3 linked regions of the Homo sapiens genome follow. The protein of the gene in region 3 purifies or fractionates together with the protein of the main gene of each other region. This does not show direct contact. Each region holds a gene or a part of one and is shown on either strand. Other genes may lie near its edges. The genes, in order: GAS6, CNTNAP3 and CDH16.

The links.
Region 1: the proteins of CDH16 (region 3) and GAS6 purify together in Homo sapiens (affinity purification with mass spectrometry; one large-scale study listed by BioGRID and IntAct). This does not show direct contact.
Region 2: the proteins of CDH16 (region 3) and CNTNAP3 purify together in Homo sapiens (affinity purification with mass spectrometry; one large-scale study listed by BioGRID and IntAct). This does not show direct contact.

What each region holds. Positions count from the first base shown.
Region 1 is NC_000013.11:113,836,475-113,840,118, forward strand, and holds part of GAS6 (growth arrest-specific protein 6 precursor), read right to left. Parts: intron 3,377-3,644; coding exon 3,254-3,376; intron 1,774-3,253; exon of another isoform or gene 1,718-1,773; coding exon 1,595-1,717; intron 1-1,594. UniProt on the Homo sapiens protein: Ligand for tyrosine-protein kinase receptors AXL, TYRO3 and MER whose signaling is implicated in cell growth and survival, cell adhesion and cell migration.
Region 2 is NC_000009.12:39,173,131-39,176,774, reverse strand, and holds part of CNTNAP3 (contactin-associated protein-like 3 isoform 1 precursor), read left to right. Parts: intron 1-682; coding exon 683-826; intron 827-3,644.
Region 3 is NC_000016.10:66,915,953-66,920,378, reverse strand, and holds the start of CDH16 (cadherin-16 isoform 1 precursor), read left to right. Parts: upstream 1-1,493; 5' UTR 1,494-1,575; intron 1,576-2,300; 5' UTR 2,301-2,313; coding exon 2,314-2,358; intron 2,359-2,653; coding exon 2,654-2,737; intron 2,738-3,949; coding exon 3,950-4,105; intron 4,106-4,175; coding exon 4,176-4,314; intron 4,315-4,426. UniProt on the Homo sapiens protein: Cadherins are calcium-dependent cell adhesion proteins. They preferentially interact with themselves in a homophilic manner in connecting cells; cadherins may thus contribute to the sorting of heterogeneous cell types.

The sequences.
Region 1 (3,644 bases), on a different chromosome or scaffold from region 3:
GAGGGGGAGGACGACGGAGGGGGAGGAGGAGGAGAAGCAGGGAGGAAGAGGAGAAGGTGAGGGAGGGGTGGGGGAGGAGGTGAGGGAGGGGGTGGGGAGGGGTGAGGGAGGGGGTGGGGAGGGGTGAGGGAGGGGGTGGGGAGGGGTGGGGGAGGAGGAGGAGAGGGGAAATAAGGATGGGGGAGGAGGAGGGGGAAAAAGAGGAGGGGGAATGAGGAGGAAGAAGAGGGGAATGAGGAGGAAGAAGAGGGGAATGAGGAGGAGGAGGGGGAGGAAGAAGATGGGGAGGAAGAGGGGGAGTGGGGGGAGGAGGAGAAGAAAGAGGAGGAGGAAGATGAGGAGGAGGAGGAAGATGGGGAGGAGGAGGGGGAGTGGGGGGGAGGAGGAGGGGGAGTGGGGAGAGGAGGAGGGGGAGTGGGGAAAGGAGGAGGGGGAATGGTGGGGAGGAAGAGGAAGATGGGGAGGAGGAGGAGAGGACGGGAATGCCTCTGTCACTGTGGGCAGTAACTGTGAGCCTAGACTTTGCCGGGAGTGCCCGACTGGTGCAGGGACCCACGGGAGATGCTTTAGACGTCATCTCTCAGGATCGGCCTAGTCTTCACCTCTCTTTAAACCTGGGGTGCTGCTGTCTTCCAGGTCAGGGATAGAGCAGTGATGGGAGGGGCTCTGTCCTCGGCGGGGAAATGGGTTTATGTGTTAAGATGGGAATCACGTCATCTGCACACAGGGCTAACTCCTGGGTGGTCAGGGAAGGGAACCACCAAAGTGGACAGAAATAGCAGCTGCCTTTTGAAATCGGGGGATGGGGTGTGGCCCCTCCTGTCTGGTCAGATTCACTCTCCAGATCCTGGGGCTGTTTCTCCCTGAGCAACTGTCTGTCCTGTCCACGCAGTTCGGTGTCCTGGACAGTCAGCAGCAGCGCTAAGAACTATGCCAGAAACTCTCAGGGACACGCCTGGGCATGTCCAGATACAACGTGGGGAGGGAGGAGGAAGGTGCTCCCCCTGCAAAGTGGCAAAGGGCCAGTGGCAGCAGCAGCACCTGGAACAGCGTCGGGGGCGCGCACATTCACAGTGACTTTCTGGGGTGTCCTGGGGCTCCCCAGCTCTGGCCCTGGGCTGAGGGAACCCCAGACTGAAATATGAAAGGAAGTGGGGAGGGCAGGGCTATATTTAGTGGACAGAGGGAGACCAACAACGGGGTGCTTCTGGGGATGCTGGGGAGAGTGGACGGCGGGGGGACCCTAGCCTGGAGCCCTGACCCACAAGCTCACTACACAAGTGCCTGGAGCACTTCCAGGCTCTGTGAGGCTCTGGGGAATGGACGAGGCCCTACAGCCAGCAGTGTGGCCTCATGGGCTGGGCCGGCCCCCTGAGTCCTGGCCCTCAGATGCCGGGTGAGTCATCCTGGTGTGGTGCCGAGCAGCTCCCTGTGCTGCGGCTGGCCTGGGCTTGTGTAGTCTCTGCAGGATGCCCCATCCCATCCAGAACCACAGGAACCCAGCCAGCAGCAGCCGCTTGCAGAAGAGCAGACATGACCGAAAATAGAAGGTGGGGAGAGGAGAGAGGAGAGAGGCCTCACCCCAGGGCCTTACCTTGGCAGGTCCTGCCATCAGAGGAGAGCTCGAAGCCGCTGTGGCAGGAACAGTGGAAGCTACCCGGCTTGTTGTGGCAGATCTGGAGGCAGCCCCCGTTCTCCTGGCTGCATTCGTTGACATCTGGGAACAAGCACAGGCCTGAAGGGGAGCCCAAGGGTGCACAGCCCCTGGCTACGGTAGGAAGAGATCCCAGAGGTGCACAGCCCAGCCCTGGAGCAGGGAGGGAGCCCAGAGGTGCACAGCCCAGCCCTGGAGCAGAGAGAGATCCCAAAGGTGCACAGCCCAGCCCTGGAGCAGGGAGGGAGACCAGGGGTCACAGCCTAGCCCCGGAGCAGGAGGAAGGGACCCCGGGGGTGCACAGCCCAGCCCTGGAGCAGGGAGGGAGCCCAGGGGTGCACAGCCCAGCCCCGGAGCAGGAGGAGGGGACCCCGGGGGTGCACAGCCCAGCCCTGGAGCAGGGAGGGAGCCCGGGGGTGCACAGCCCAGCCCCGGAGCAGGAGGAAGGGACCCCGGGGGTGCACAGCCCAGCCCTGGAGCAGGGAGGGAGCCCGGGGGTGCACAGCCCAGCCCCGCAGCAGGAGGAAGGGACCCCGGGGGTGCACAGCCCAGCCCTGGAGCAGGGAGGGAGCCCGGGGGTGCACAGCCCAGCACTGGAGCAGGGAAGGAGCCGGGGGGGTGCACAGCCCAGCACTGGAGCAGGAGGAAGGGACCGCGGGTGTGCACAGCCCAGCCCTGGAGCAGGGAGAGAGCCTGGGAGTGCACAGCCCAGCCCCCGAGCAGAGAGAGATCCTAGAGGTGCACAGCCCAGCCCTGGAGCAGAGAGGGACCCCAGGGCTTGGACCTCACACCCCACTCAGCAGCCCTAGCGTTTCATGGCCCCTGGTCCTGGCCTTGCGTGTGGAGGTAGATGGTGGGAGGGCATGGGGGATCCCCAGCTGCGGTCTCAGCCTGGGGAGCTGCTGGCAGTCACAGCCCACAGGGCTCAGCTCCCTGGATGCCCATGTGCTTGCAGGAGGAGGCTGCAGGCCAGGAGTGACCTCTGGGTGCCGAGGACAGACAAGGCCAGGCCAGAGCTGGCCACTCCTTAGCAAAGCCCTCCCAGGCCACCTGTGGGGTAGGATTTGCCAAAGGGGACAGGCTGGCCTGCTGGGCTCTCCACTATGGGTCTCCACCAGGCCCTGGAGCTATTCTTCCTCCAGGGTCTTCACTGACACCACAGGTCTACACTGAAGGACGGTCAGAGGTGAAATCTCCCCCCGGCCTTTCAATCAGTGGGTGCCACTGACACCACAGGTCTGCACTCAAGGACGGTCAGAGGTGAAATTTCCCCCCCGCCTTTCAATCAGTGGGTGCCACTGACACCACAGGTCTGCACTCAAGGACGGTCAGAGGTGAAATTTCCCCCCCCGCCCTTCAATCAGTGGGTGCTGAGGCATCACTTGGTGTTTCCTTTCCTTCCAGCCCTGCTCCCAGAAAGGAGACTGCAGCTCCTCCCAATTCTCCTGGGGCTCCAGGATACCTCAGGGCTGCAGCCTCCTTGGGGCTGTCGGAGAGCAGCCTGAGGATGGCCGTGCCCCGGAGTGGGAGTGAGGAGCGGGGATCAGGGCAGGGTCGGAGATGGAGGGAGACCCCGCCTTTGTCTTCAGCCTCACGTACCTTTGTCGCAGAGCCGGCCCCCCCAGCCAGCTTTACACAGGCAGAAGAAGTTGCCCATGAGGTCCTGGCAGGCTTGGGTCCCCTTCCTATCGCAGGGGTTGGGCGTGCACTGGTCAGGCAGGTCTGATTGGGGACACAAAGTGGAAAATCATGTTCAGCTGCCCCACCCCTGCGCGCCCAACGCAGCTGAGATCGGGGCGGCTGTGGGGTCTCGGGTCCAGCCCGGAGGAGCTCTGAGGGGCGCAGGCTGAGGCAGCCCCTGGGCACCCGAGCCCTCTGTGCTGGCCTAGGGCTGACAGAATAGGCTGGCGGGCCCTGGGGCCGGCTCCAGGAAAACTCAGATCAACTGGGAGGGAGTGCCAGCAGGCCTGGACGCAAGGTGGGAAGGGCT
Region 2 (3,644 bases), on a different chromosome or scaffold from region 3:
AGCTACACTGTTAAATAGCATCTATTCTTTCAGTCCTTTACAGGACACCTTAAAGTGTATGAAGGATCATAACAAACCAGAAAAACTGTGATATTTACTGGCGTAAGTGGCTTTGGCATATAATATTAAACTGAAGATCCTAGTCCTATACCGGATTATTCAGTTTTATTACTTTAATTTAACCATGTAATAGCAAAAGATAATATCTAATGCAGAGGTTGGCAAACTATGGGCATCAGGCCAAGTTTGGACATTTTTTAATTAAAAAAATACAAAGCCTGTTTTTGTTCAAAAGAGAAGGTTTTATTGGAACATGTTCTCTTTCTTTATGTATTGTCCGTGGCCACATTGGTACTTCGTGTCAGAGTTGAGTGCTGCAAAAGAGATCATATGACCCACAAAGGGTAAATTTACTACATGGCTGAAAATTTCAATGTGGCAGAAAATGTGTGTTGACTTCTTCCTTTTAAGTTTGTTCAAAACTGTGTGGTGCCAGAAATAAAGGTATTAACAGCTGTCATTATGATAGAACACTTCATTTGGAATAAGCAAGCATGCAAATATAAGATAATGGGAATGGATTTGTGACAGTTAGTACTAGACCTATTAATTATAAATGCTTTAAACACGTACCATCAGAAAATCACTAAACAATGTTATTTATGTCATTTTTCTTTCTAAGATCAGCTTTGGGGGAATTCCGACACCCGGAAGATCGCGGGCATTCAGACGTAAAAGCTTTCATGGGTGTTTAGAAAATCTTTATTATAATGGAGTGGATGTTACCGAATTAGCCAAGAAACACAAACCACAGATCCTCATGATGGTAAGGAAGCCTAATGGGAAGGAAAGAAAAAAGGACATTTTATTTTTTGCATTTAAAAATTATTCATGTGAAGTCTCCATTTCATCTAATATTTTAAGAATCAGTTCTTACTTTAACAGCTGCCCATGTAATATAGTAATTTAGTTTTATTTATTTATTTATTTTTAAGACAGAGTCTCCCTCTTGTCTCCCAGGTTGGAGTGCAGCGGCGCAATCTCAGCTCACTGCAGCTTACGCCTCCCAGGTTCAAGCAATTCTCCTGCCTCAGCCTCCTGAGTAGCTGGGATTACAGGCGCCCGCCACCATGCCCAGCTAATTTTTGTACTTTTAGTAGAGACGGGGTTTCGCCATGTTGGCCAGGCTAGTCTCGAATTCCTGACCTCAGGTGATCTGCCTGCCTCGGCCTCCCAAAGTGCTGGGATTACAGGTGTGAGCCACTGGGCCTGGGCCAATTTTTTTTTTTTTTTTTTTGAGACGGAGTCTCACTCTGTCGCCCAGACTGGAGTGCAGTGAAGCTCTGCCTCCTGGGTTCACGCCATTCTCCCGCCTCAGCCTCCCGAGTACCTGGGACTACAGGTTCCCACCACCATGCCCGGCTAATTTTTTATATTTTTGGTAGAGACGGGGTTTCACCATGTTAGCCAGGATGGTCTCGATCTCCCAACCTCGTGATCTGCCCACCTCGGCCTCCCAAAGTGCTAGGACCACAGGCGCACTTTTTTTGTTTTTGTTTTTGTTTTTGTTTTGAGATGCAGTCTTGCTCTGTTGCCCAGGCTGGAGTGCAGCGGTACAGTCTTGGCTCACTGCAACCTCCGCCTCCTGGGTTCAAGCCATTCTCCTGCCTCAGCCTTCCGAGTAGCTGGGACTACAGGTGTGTGCCACCACACCCGGCTAATTTTTTTTAGTACAGACAGGGTTTTGCCACATTGGCCAGGCTGGTCTCAAACTCCTGACCTCAGACGATACACTTGCCTCGGCCTCCCAAAATGCTAGGATTACAGGCACGAGCCACCTTGACCCAGCCTAATATAGTAATTTTTATTATGCATAAAAAGTTATAAAGTAAATATGCCTCATGGGACATCGTTGTTTCATTTTTATATGAAATAAAATAACTTTCTATTTTTACATGGAAATCAGAATTCATATGTCTCACGTGTTTTTGGTGTTGTTATCCACAGGAGACCAATCATTTTGCAATGGCAATCCCTAATGATCTATTCCCTAATCAACTGGAAATACTTCCAAATCAGTTAATAAACTTCTTTCAATGTTTAAAGTTTGAAATATCCAAGTTGGGGTTAAAGGGAAAGCTCATGTTTAGTTGTCAGTGTATCTCAGCAGCACATCATGGGAATATTTATTTGTATTGTTGGGAACATGTTTTCTTTCCTGTTATGTGCTGGAGGAGTTGGCTCATGGGTTGCAGGACCAAAACCTGAAAATATCTCTGACTGTGTGTCACCAGACCACACAATGAATACATCACTTAGGTTAGCATGAGAAAAAGGGAAAAACAGCTGTGAAGCCCATGAACTTTCCAAGAAGGTAAAGGAGAAAAAAAAAAAAAAAGATGGGTTTGAAGTCTAAGTTTTACTATGAACAGCACCCTGCTGAGATCATAAAAATGAAAAATACCATCAAGATACATGAAAAAGGAAACACCAAAGGGAAGAGTGATAACAAGGCTCCACAGAGTGCAGTTTCCTTTGACAAGATGAAAAAGAAATGAAAAGAGGAAGGAGATAAATGGAACAGCCCTCTACCTAAAGTTTCTGTCCATGGAGAAACTGACATTTAAGTGCTGCTCAACAGGAAAAAGAAAAAAGACCTGGTTATTGAAGTTGGCTTTGTTGGAGATGCGTTACTCAGATACAGATACAAAGATGGGTTTGGCCAATGGGCATCCGTGTCAAGAAGCCTGACCTAACACGTTCTGAATATTAAGCTACCTTTTATCTGCCAGTCCTTGGTGTTCAGAAGAATCCCTCCTCCTCACCCTAACTTCTATGGGGCTATTTACAAAGACACTGTCATTGAAGTGAGGAAGAGTGAGTTGGGCCTTATGACACAAAGAGACAAGACTATTTGAGGACAACAGACACAGGTTTTCATATACATTCCATGTTATTCTGAATTACTGATGGGTTCACTGATGGAATTATTGAGTATAGCCAATAAGGAGAACCACAATTAAGCTGGTATCTCTGGGTTCTGGATATCATCCTCAAGAAAACTATTTACTAATTACATTGAATGAGGTTATTAAAATGTGTAAGTTTCACACAAAAACAAAAAGACAATTCATTCCAAATTGTGCATATGGATATATAATGTTAATTATGGGAATTCCATTTTAAGAATTACTACAATTCTATGTGTTCTGTATAAAAACAGGAAAATAGTTGTTCCAATATATAAAAGGAAAACATTTAAAAATGTATTTTGTTGGGAAAATCAGTTGCCAGAATTCATTCAGTCAACTAACAAGCACTCCTCTGTGGCAAGAAGCCCTGCCTCTCTGTTGTAGCAGGCAGCTACCCACCTAAATGATGAGGTCAAGAAATATACAGCTGATAAAAAGATAAAAAATATGTAATAGTCCAGTGATTACATGTGTACTATGGATCAGTGCCAATTACTTGTAAGCTTTTGGTATTTAGTTTGTTACAGCAAATGTTTTCTTTTTTAAATTTTCTTCTGCAAATGTTTTCTTGTCATGAAAACTGTTTCCCATTTGGCAGAATTACAAAAACAGTCAAGAAGAAATGTTCTGATTGATGTATACAGTTAGAATGTGTATTAAAGATTATTATAA
Region 3 (4,426 bases):
AGGGGAGCGCTGAGATTCACCCACGTGCTCCCCAGGGCAGAGGTAACTGCTCAGAGCTGTTGCTGCTCTGCCCCTCCTCCCCACATACTTCAAGGAATGCAGAAGGCATGGTATTTTCAGATCAAGTGAGGGTCCCCAGGCCTTCCTGGCTCTGTCACTTATTGACTGTGTGACCCTAGGCAAACCACTCAGCTTCTCTGTGCCCCAGCATGTGCCCAATGCCCCTTCAGAACGCAGTATGTGGCATAATGAAGGTATGTGCTCAGAGCAGTGCTGGGCACAGAGCAGGAGCTTAACACGTGTGAAACCCCCTTCAACCTCCCCACACTACACTGCTCCAGGCTGGGTGCCAGAGTGACCCTGAAGCAGGCACTCAGCTTGTGACAAGGCTGGGGGCAGCTGGGGGTAGCTTCTGGCCTGAGAGAGACTAATCAGATGTACAGTGGGAAGGACTTCGTGGGGACCATGGGAAGCTCCAAGGCTGGAGAGGGACTGGAGACCTTCTTCCCACCCTCTCCCCTCATTCCAGACTCCCAGGCCCCAGAAGCATCTCCTGGCTCTGCTTGGCTGCCCTCATTGCGGGGAGAGCCCCTGTTCAGCCCTGCAACTCCCTCAAGGTCACCTGAGCCAGTTTAATCTTCTTAGGGGCATGAGACTGCCCACTGTCTCAGCCCTGTCACTGTTGAGTGGCCAGTGTAAGGACTTCGGGAGCTCATAGGCTGCTGCACTCCCCCACCACAGGTCCCCCTGGGGGGGGTGGTCTGGAGCCCCAATACCCACTTCCACTCATGTACTGCTCACCCATCCTTTGCAACCTCCAGCTCCTTGTCTTAGTTCCACAAGCCATGCGGAGCTGCCAGGGCAGAATGAGAGCCAGGTCATTCCTGAGTCCCTGAGTTCTGCTCTCAAAGGGCTCCCAATCTAATGGAAGAGGCAGACAATGACAAGCTGGTGTCCTCTGTGTATTAATAGAGATAGCACATGGCATGGTGTGAGGGGGAGGGGCATTCCCAGAGGAGGCTCCTGAACAAGCCTGGGAACATAGGGGAAGTTTCCTGGAAAAAGGAATATTTGAGCTGAGCACTGAAGCATGCATGAGCAGGTGCTTACCACACAGATGAATGAGTGGGAAGGGTGTTCCATGCAAAAGGAACAGAGTGTGAAAAGGTGTGGCTGCAGACACTGGAGCCTGGGAGATAAGTCAGACCAAGTCTGGAGCCACAGAAAAAGTAACGTCCAGAACCAGAGGGCCAAGGAATACCTCCTGGGCTGTGCTGGGGTCGAGGGAGTGCCAGGCCAACCATCTCCCCACCTCCTGGAGCTGGCAGTCACGGATGCTGAGCAGCTCCTGGCTTTCCAAAGTCAATGAGTAACTTGGGGGGCTGGGCGGGGCCAGGCCTGCTGCTGTGGGCCCAGTGGCCTTTTCCACTCCTGAGCAAGCGTGGCTGAACCCTCCTACCTGCTCAAGTGCCCTGCCTTGCCCCACCCAGCCCAGCCTGGCCAGAGCCCCCTGGAGAAGGAGCTCTCTTCTTGCTTGGCAGCTGGACCAAGGGAGCCAGTCTTGGGCGCTGGAGGGTGAGGGGCTGGGAGTGGAGGGGAGGGCATGGCTGAGGCTGAGGTTGGTGGTGGGGAAAGGAGAAACACTGCCCTGTCCTCGCCATCTGGGAAAGAATTCCCAGGGCCTCATCTTAGAGGGGTTGTCGATTTGTCGCTGCTCTGCCTGCCCAGCTCCATGACAAGGGCTGGAAAATGATGAGACAAGGGCCGGGCTCCTGCTCCGGGGGTTCTCCTTGTCTAGAAGGTGGCAGTGGGAGGCAGGACAGTCCCAGAGGCCCTGAGCTAGGAGGACTCCTCCTGTGGTCAAGTCCTCTGTGACCTTGGCCAGACCCCAGCATTCAGGCCTTGCCTGCAACAAGAGGTGACTTCAGGAAGTGACCCTCCAAGTCTTCAGGAACTTTCCAGCTTCAAACTTTTGTGATTTGGGGGATTGCTAGAAAATTACCACTTTGGGATCTGCGGCCTGGGGAGGCTATGGTGAGAAGGAGCTGGAGGTCTGGAGGTGAAATTCTGATAGAGTGCTTGATGGACCAAGAGCCTAGAAGCAGGGTGGCTGGGCCTGGGGGCCTTGGTGGGCCTGGCCGAGGAGCAGGGCACTACCCTGCAGGAGATGGAGAGCCTCAGCTCCTTTGGAGGGGAGGAAGAGAAGACTAGTCTGCAGTACGATCCCACTAGTTGTGTGTGTGGGATGGAAAGCCCCTCCCTACCCACCTGGGCTGGATCCTCACTGCCGTGTCCCTCAGGCCTGTCCTGACCATGGTCCCTGCCTGGCTGTGGCTGCTTTGTGTCTCCGTCCCCCAGGTGAGCTAGGCCCTGCCCCCTCTCCTTCAGGTCTTGGCTTTGGGGGTTGACACCCTTGCCCCCAACTCCACCTGGACCAATTGCACTGACCGTGAGAACGGTGCAAGGCATGGGAGGGGTCAGAGCTGGGACTATAGAGCCACTGTGGGATGAGGAGGTCAAAGACCAGAGCGCGGGTGGATGGACTAAGGTACAGCCAGGCCCTGGGAAGGGGCGGAAATTCCGCTCTTCTGTTGGGTCTCAGTGCCCACGCAGGAAGATAGAGCCTGGTGACAAGGTGAGAATCCTCCCACAGGCTCTCCCCAAGGCCCAGCCTGCAGAGCTGTCTGTGGAAGTTCCAGAAAACTATGGTGGAAATTTCCCTTTATACCTGACCAAGGTGAGCCGGAGAGCTGGGGTTGGGGCCGGGGGGATCCCTCCCCGCAAAGTCCTGCTTCTCCTTCCTCTGGCACCCTTCCTCTTGCTGTTTCTCTTTGAAATCCTGCTTTCCAGAGAGTATGTACACGTTACACAGGTTGAGTGTCCCCTATCTGAAATGCTTGGGACCAGAAGTGTTTCAGATTTTGGATTTTTTTTTTTCTTCAGATTTTGGAATATTTGCATATATATCATGAGATATCTTGGGGAATGGAACCCAAATCTAGATAGGAAATTCATTTATGTTTCATATACATCTTATACACATAGCCTGAAGGTAACGTTATACATTTTTTTTTCTTTTGAGACGAAGTTTCGCTCTTGTCGCCCAGGCTGGAGTGCAGTAGCATGTTCTCAGCTCACTGCAACTTCCACGTCCTGGGTTCAAGAGATTCTCCTGCCTCAGCCTCCTGAGTAGCTGGGACTACAGGCATGCACCACCACTCCTGGCTAATTTTTTTTTTTTTTTTTTGTATTTTTAGTAGAGACAGGGTTTCGCCATGTTGGCCAGGCTGGTCTTGAACACCTCACCTCAGGTGAGCCGCCCGTCTTGGGCTCCCAAAGTGCTGGGATTACCACTTTGGGATTTGCGAGCTGGGGAGGCTATGGCCAGAAGGAGCTGACAGTACAGAGGTGAAATTCCGACAGAATCCTTGAGTGGCCAAGAGCCCAGTGTGAGTCTGCTCCTGGGCGAATATTTTTAATGATTTTGTGCATGAAACAAAGTTCTGACTATGTGTTGACTGTGACCTGTCACATGAGGTCAGATGCGGCATTCTGTACTTGTCACATCATATTGGCGCTCAAAAAGTTTCAGATTTTGAGTATTTCAGATTTCAGATTTTCGGGTTAGAGATGCTCAACCTGCAGTGGGAATGACTAACAGATTTTAATCCTAGTGGAGAGCAGAGCTTTAGATTAAAGAACGAAATCTCGGTGGTGAGGTTTCAAGCTTCAGAAAGAAGGGCAGAGAGTTTTGGGGAGCATCAGGTCCAGGGAAAAGAGTTCTGGCTCTGAGTCTCAGTCCTGATGCTTACTGGCTGTGTGACCTCTGACAGGAGCCAGATGTCTCTGAGACTCAGTTTCCCCACATGTAAAATGAGGCCATCAGGTGGAGGAGGGGCATCTCCCAGGCCTGGCCACCGCTCCCTTCACTTCTGTTCATTTCCATCAGTTGCCGCTGCCCCGTGAGGGGGCTGAAGGCCAGATCGTGCTGTCAGGGGACTCAGGCAAGGCAACTGAGGGCCCATTTGCTATGGATCCAGATTCTGGCTTCCTGCTGGTGACCAGGGCCCTGGACCGAGAGGAGCAGGCAGAGTACCAGCTACAGGTATGGCTGGGCCAGGTGTAGGGGAGAGCAGGCAAGGCAGAGCCAGACGCTGACTCCCCTTCCCTGCCAGGTCACCCTGGAGATGCAGGATGGACATGTCTTGTGGGGTCCACAGCCTGTGCTTGTGCACGTGAAGGATGAGAATGACCAGGTGCCCCATTTCTCTCAAGCCATCTACAGAGCTCGGCTGAGCCGGGGTACCAGGCCTGGTGAGTGACCAGGGCAGCCAATTTACAGTAAGGTCAGGTGGGCCTTGATGGAACAGCAGAGAGCGAAGAGATGGCCAGACAGTTGGCATAGGACAGGGCAGCCATTTCTGTC